Linked DNA regions of Homo sapiens. The protein of the gene in region 1 purifies or fractionates together with the protein of each later gene. This does not show direct contact. Each region holds a gene or a part of one and is shown in the gene's direction. Other genes may lie near its edges.

Region 1 (3,500 bases):
CACAGCCCAGTGCAGGGAGACAGACCACTGATGTGACAGTGACAACCCAGAGAGGGCTGGAATGGGGAGTCCAGGGGGCTGGGACAACCCAGCGGGGCATCTAACCCAGTTTGTGGGTAGTCTGGGAGGGCTTCCCATAGGAGGGGGCACTGGGGCTGAGACCTGGAAGCAGGAGAGCAGGTGTCCCTGAGGGATGCCCATTTTGGGGCTCTGGGTGCTCGGTCAGCCCCTCCCTCCCCGCACTGGCCAGGCCCTGACACCCTGGCGTCTGCTCCTCCACCCAGGTGAAATCTGAACGGAGCAGAAACTCTCGCAAGTGGTGCCGCCGCCGGGGCATAGAGGAGCATCGACTGTACGAAATGGCCAACCTTCGGCGCCAGTTCAAGGTGAGGCTCGGGAGGAGGGGTAAGGCCGGCCCCACTCAGGCAGACGTGTGTAAGCACACTCCAGAACACTGCTTCCCCTTCCCAGACAGTGGTCAGACCAGAATCCCACCCTGCACCCACCTCCCCCACCACCCGGTGACCAGGTGTTGGGGCAGCTGGGCAGAGCAAAGGGAGCAGAAATCCAGGAGGGCTTCCTGGAGGGGTGGACCGAGTCAGTGGACATGCAGCATCCTCGGGAAGAGCTCGCCCTCCGGACTGGGGATGCTGAGCTGGCTGCATGGGCATGGTGTTGGAGGCAGCCTACGGTTGTGGTTGGCCGGCACATCTGGAGCCAGACACCTCAGCCACAGATCCCAGCTCTGCCATTTCTGACAGCGTGGCCCCGGGTGTGTTACTGCTTGTCTCTGGGCCTCAGCTTCCCCTCGATAAAAAGAGAGGATAAAAATAGCACTTGCCAGCCGGGCGTGGTGGCTCACGCCTATAATCCTAGCACTTTGGGAGGGCGAGGTGGGTGGATCACGAGGTCAGGAGATCGTGACCATCCTGGACAACATGGTAAAACTCCGTCTCTTCTAAAAATACAAAAATTAGCCAGGCATGGTGGCACGTGCCTGTAATCCCAGCTACTTGGGAGGCTGAAGCAGGAGAGTCGTTTGAACCCAGGAGGTGGAGGTTGTGGTGAGCCGAGATTGAGCCATTGCACTCCAGCCTGGGCAACAAGAGCGAAACTCCACTCAAAAAAAAAAAAAAAAAAAGATTTGGGTTTCTCCTGCGCCCACACAGTTCTGCAGCTTGTTTCATAGATACTGTTCTCCATCTGAGTGCAGACAGACCTGCTGTTAGGTCCTTTTCCATGGTTGTATCCATGGATTGAGAATAGAATAAAAGGGTTCCTGGTGTAATCCATTCTGTTTGGTTGGAGATGGGCAAGCTGAGGCCCAGAGGGGGCAGTCACCCAGCCGACACCTCCGGTACCATTTCTGGGGTCCCGGTGTTGGGGACCACAGATGCCCCGATTGCTCTGAGCATGGGTCCCGAGTTCTCTCTGGCTGCTAGAGCAGTGTTCAGGCTTCATTGGTCCCCAGATGCTTTGAGAATCTAATGGAAAGTGTGAGCCCTTTGCACCCACATGCACACATACAGACACACATGCACGCACAATCTCCTGTGTCCTCCATCGGTCAGGGCTCAGCAGGAAACAGAAGGTCCAACCAAATTGGGTCACTTGAGGAATGTTGACAAGATGTGGGCACGGGGAGGGCAGGGGTCTCAGATTTTATGGGTCACAGGCAGCTGGAGGGTCTGTTGGGTCCAGATGGCCAACCCCGCCGAGCCCCCTCCTCTCTCCACTTGGTCGTTCTGGGATGAGGCCCAGGACTTGGCATTCCCAGCATGTGCCTAGATGCCCCAGGGCTACACTCAGAAGCACTAGTGCAGGACGCCCACCAGGGCTGTGTGGGAAAGCAGGGCCCCCCAGACCCAAGGGGCAGGTGGGGCAGTCAGCAGAGCCTGGAGCCAGCTGTGGGAAAAGGCACTGGACGCCCGCACCTGCCTCCTCTTGCCCCTGGCCCCGGTGTTCCCTCCACTGACCAGCGAGGACAGCTCTCTCTCTGGAGCAGCGATCCATGCCCAGCACCATGCGAGGGGCTGTTTTCAGCCCCCTTTGGGCACTAGCAGCCCTGCCACTGGGAGGGTCCCCATTTCCATGAGTCCAGAGCCCACTGAGTCTGCCCTGAGGCCCTCACCCCTACCCACCTGCCCCTAGGAGCTGTTGGAGGACCACGGGCTGCTGGCTGGGGCCCAGGCCGCGCAGGTAGGGGACAGCTACAGTCGGTTGCAGCAGCGCCGGGAGCGCCGGGCCCTGCACCAGCTGAAACGCCAGCACGAGGAGGGCGCGGGGCGCAGGCGCAAGGTGCTGCGGCTGCAGGAGGAGCAGGACGGCGGCTCCAGTGACGAGGACAGGGCTGGCCCAGCCCCCCCAGGGGCCAGTGATGGCGTGGACATCCAGGTGGGCGCCATGGGCTGTGGGGTGTGGGGGTTTACCAAGGTGGGCCTTGGCCTCTCCTGGGGGGGTCCCAGGGGACATGGCCCTGTCCTCATTTCAGGAGCCGGGTTTCCATGGACGGTGCTTGGTCCCAGGTATCTGCAGAGCCTGGGGGTCTGCGGATCATGGTAGGAGCCCCTCAGGTCCCCTAAGACTCTGCCTCCCCGTGCTCCCCCCAGGATGTGAAGTTCAAGCTTCGGCATGACCTGGCGCAGCTGCAGGCCGCTGCCAGCTCAGCCCAGGACCTGAGCCGCGAGCAGCTGGCTCTGCTGAAGCTGGTGCTGGGCCGGGGCCTGTACCCACAGCTGGCCGTCCCCGACGCCTTCAACAGCAGCCGAAAGGACTCAGACCAGGTGGGGCCTGTTCTGCCCCATCCTATGTTTTGTCCTCCAACACACGAACCCTGAGTGCCTGTCCTGTGCCGGGAATGCAGTGGTGACTGAAACAACCCTGGTTCTGTCCCCATGGGGCTCACAACCCAGTGGGAGGACAGACCCATCCCCAGACAACCCAGAGTGGGCAGGGCTTGGGGAGTCAAGAGCACTATAGGAGCCCACAGGGGGCATCTGCCCCAGATTTGGAGGAGTCAGGGAGGGCTTCCTGGAGGAGGGAACCTGGGCCAGAGGGTGGAGGAGAGGCATCCTGGGCAGAGGAGAGAGCAGATAGGAGGGCTTGTGCTTTCTCTCTGTCCTCCGCAGATTTTCCACACGCAGGCCAAGCAGGGCGCCGTGCTGCACCCCACCTGCGTCTTCGCTGGCAGCCCCGAGGTGCTGCACGCACAGGAGCTGGAGGCCAGCAACTGCGACGGAAGCCGAGGTACAGTGAGCCCAGGCGGAAGGAACCCCCATCCGGGATGTGAGGGGCAGGGATACCGTGAACTCCCAGGCCCCTCTGGCTGGGGCTCCCACACCGGCCCAGGCTGGTATTGACGGGGGCCCACAGGAGGGGAAGTTCCAGGGCCAGGCCTCCCTGGGTAGCCTTGGGTGACTCACCCCTGCTGGGCCTCACCTTCCGCATGGTGGTGATAGTCAACCTAAGCCAGTGTGGCTGTGCCCAGAGAGTGAGCACCG
Region 2 (3,500 bases), on another chromosome or scaffold:
ATTCACCTGCCTGGTAAGAACTAAAAGACCCAAGTCTTCAATTCTAGCCGTGATGTAAGAAACAGGAATAGTTTTACCTAAAATTTTGTCAGTCCTGCTAATTTAAAATTTAGGCTTTTTGCTAGTTAGTGTTAAAGGATATTGTAGGTTAAGAAGGTTTTTGTCAGCTTCCTGGAGATCTAACCTCAGTATAATATTGTATAACATCATTTCTGTGAGTAAATATTTGTTAACTCTCAATAAGTGGAGTTTTATAAACTCAATGATATTTAAGGTGCAGGGTATTTAGTCTAAAAATTTACGTATAGTTTGTGCACTAGGGCTACTAAATCTAATTCACACAAAAGCACCACATTGCAGAATCCTAAGGAACAATCAAAGGTGGAATCAGTAGAGGAAGGTGTTATTAGGTGGTGTGAATTTGAGGAAGAAAAAGGAGGAAGAAGGGATTAAAAAAAAGCTTTTTATTAAAGGAATAAAGAATCGAGCATCATCTCGATGAAGGATTGTCAAGATTCTTAAAGCTGAACATGTGCTAAAGTATAACAACTGGTGGATTGGTCTGAGCATCTAGGTAATTTGTGGGTGGATTAGTCTTTGCTGGTTAATCGTCCTGTTGAGGCTTTTACATGCTACAGAGTAGCTGTTAGGTGTGTCACTGCAGTAAAATCTGATTGCATTATTGTCTAGGTTATAAGTTTGTTGCTGAGATCATTGAATGCTGTGGTAGCAAACGTCTCATAAGAGCATGAAATGGTTTTTAGCAGCAGCCTCGAAGCTACTGGATGTATATAGAATAATGGAAAGACTGGTGGATATTCATACATTAGATATTTGAGGATATATTGTGAGCAAGGACTTGTTGTCACCTAGAGGCAAGATTTTTTAGCAGAAACATGACTAATAAATCACTACACAAACTGCTGTGGAAGCATATGTTAAGTCCCACAGGGAGCTCAAATGAAGGAGTCAGTAGGGGAAGCTTTTACAGAGGACTTACATTTAAGCTAGATTTTTACAGGCAGTTTTCTAGGCAAAGTAGGGAAAAGAAGGACATTTCCAGTCAGAGTTAAAAGCATATTAGGAATGAAACACCAATGGTTGTTTGGGGGAACTAAGAAGATACTGGTCTGCTAGAGTGAGTATACTGAGAGCAAGTGGTAAGGATTGGAAGAAGATAAGATTGGAACATCTGGTGTTTTGAGATTAGATTGGAAATATTTTATCCTCTGAACCAGGATTCCTTGTAGGCCGATTGTTTTGTTTTGCTTGGCCATGTATATTGTACTTCTTAAAAACAATCTGAAAATTTCAAATGATGGAGAATAATATGAAGTGAAAAGTAAAAGTTTTTTTCTGCTTTCCTAAACCTCTGTTATCACTCCTCAAAGGTTACCGGTTAATATTTTGTTGTCTTCTTTCATAAAATGTTGTATGCAGACACAGTATATTTGTCTTTTTTATCATACTTTTTAAAAAAAGTTTTAGGGGGTAATCTTTTTAATTTTTAAAATTATGTTGTTGTTAGAATCATACTTTAGATGTAGTCTGTGTTTTGCTTTTTTCACTTAACACTATAAATCAGGAGACTGTTTTAAAAAGATAACTGGCTTCAGTATAGAGTATAGCATGGTAAGCATTTATTCAATAAATTACTTATGGCAGGCATAGTGTCTGCTAAGCTTTTCCTCGACCCTGAGGATACAGTGATGGGTATCATTTAGGAAGCCATTTCCGTAGTGCACGTGAATGTTAATGGAGTCCCAAAAGGTAATGGGAATGGATGTAAGAACTGTATTGAGATAAAATTGATAAAAATAGCCCATCAATTGTCTGTGGGAAATGAGAAATCAGAATATATTTAGGATGATTTCAAGGTTTACAATTCAGGAATTCAGTAAAACACATTAGGGAAATAGGTGTGTTTATTTGTATATATCTGTGTATCTTTGTTTTGGGGAGGGGGAGGGTTCGTGATATGAAGGAGTTCATTTTGAACATAGTGTTTTTGAAGGATGTTCAAGTTATTGAGGTGAAAATTTCTGATAGGCAGAGGAAATAAAGTTCAGAGCTCAGGAGAGGTAAGAAGTAGAGTTGGAAATTTTTTCTTTTTTTGCTTTTCTTTGTGTGTGTGTGTGTGTGTGTGTGTGTGTGTGTGTGTGTATTTGTAATAGCTAAATCCTTGGGAATGAGTACAATTGCCCAGGGAGAAGAGGGCTCGAGGATAAATTAGCAAAGGAGACTGAGCAGTGGTCATAGAGGAACGACAAGAATCGAGAATATCACTTTCGGAGCCAAAGGATGAGAGGGTTTCAAAGGAGTGGTCAGCGGTGTCCCATAATACAAATGGGTCAGATGGGGAAGCACTGGAAAGAGGCTATTGGATTTGTTGACTACATGTTCAATGTAACCTTAGAGGTTTCAGGAGCTATCATAAGATGGAAAGATTCATTTGGAGGAGGCAGGGCAGTAAACAAGAAAAGGTGGGCAGTGGTTAATCAGAAGCAGGTGAGTTTATTTATAGCTTTTCTTTTAGCTTGGGCAGTTCTGAGTATGAACTTTATTTTTCCGGAGGCCTCTTAGCCAAAATGTGATAGACAACATAGGAGTAAGCTTCTGAGAAGTTAAGACACATGTCACAAATTCAGGGTAGCATAGCCCATATACCAGTCCACACACATTGATTTCTCTGGTTTCTCAGGCCGTACTGGTTAGAAACAACAGAAGAGGGGTGTGTGTGTGTGTGTGTGTGTGTGTGTGTGTGTGTGTGTGTGTGTGATGAGAGGCAAGCATGCTGACAGCCTCAAGAAGTAAATAGCACATAACCTTTCAGTGAGGGAAGAAGAGACCAGAACACACACACACAGGCAGAAGAAATGATGAAGATTTACTTAGCCTAGTAGAGTGTCCATTTACTGCTGAGGCAAAAAAAACCTCAGGAACTGCATATACTTAAAGTACCCTCTGCCCACCAGGTGCCTTTCTCCTAGTGAGTTCTTTCCTACTTTTTGCAGTGTTAATTCCTGCTCTCCCTTCAGTTATGGGCTCAATTGTCTTTCCCTCAGGAGAACCATTAGTGACTCAGGCCCCTTTGTTATATGAGGCTTCACAACTGTGTTTACTGTCTTTGCAGCAGTTATCTCCGTGTGCAATTCTGAGCTCATTTGCGTGGTTATTTAATTGTGTATCTCCACTTAACTCTGGGCCGTTTGTTTACAATGGGCCCAGAGTACATAAGTGGTATTCAAAATAAATGTGCCAAGGCATATTTAAATGAATCTGAATGCACCTCTTTTCAGCTGTCATCCTGTGCCTCCTCCATCTACAAAGCCATTAATATAAAAGAGACCAATATTTCCTATAAACTTCCCTATATCTGTACCAACATTATTAAAATATTCCTAGACAATTTGACAATCAAGGTGTTAACTCCACATGCTGATCAATAGAACAGAAAACCATCTGGGTGCTCATGCAACCCATTTTCTCCCTGCTTTCCC

What was found. The genes of interacting proteins can lie anywhere in the genome.
Region 2: the proteins of DHX34 (region 1) and FBXO38 purify together in Homo sapiens (affinity purification with mass spectrometry; one large-scale study listed by BioGRID and IntAct). This does not show direct contact.

Annotation. Positions count from the first base shown.
Region 1 is NC_000019.10:47,373,315-47,376,814, forward strand, and holds part of DHX34 (probable ATP-dependent RNA helicase DHX34), read left to right. Parts: intron 1-284; coding exon 285-386; intron 387-2,151; coding exon 2,152-2,394; intron 2,395-2,609; coding exon 2,610-2,783; intron 2,784-3,128; coding exon 3,129-3,246; intron 3,247-3,500. UniProt on the Homo sapiens protein: Probable ATP-binding RNA helicase required for nonsense-mediated decay (NMD) degradation of mRNA transcripts containing premature stop codons. Promotes the phosphorylation of UPF1 along with its interaction with key NMD pathway proteins UPF2 and EIF4A3.
Region 2 is NC_000005.10:148,390,458-148,393,957, forward strand, and holds part of FBXO38 (F-box only protein 38), read left to right. Parts: intron 1-3,500. UniProt on the Homo sapiens protein: Substrate recognition component of a SCF (SKP1-CUL1-F-box protein) E3 ubiquitin-protein ligase complex which mediates the ubiquitination and subsequent proteasomal degradation of PDCD1/PD-1, thereby regulating T-cells-mediated immunity.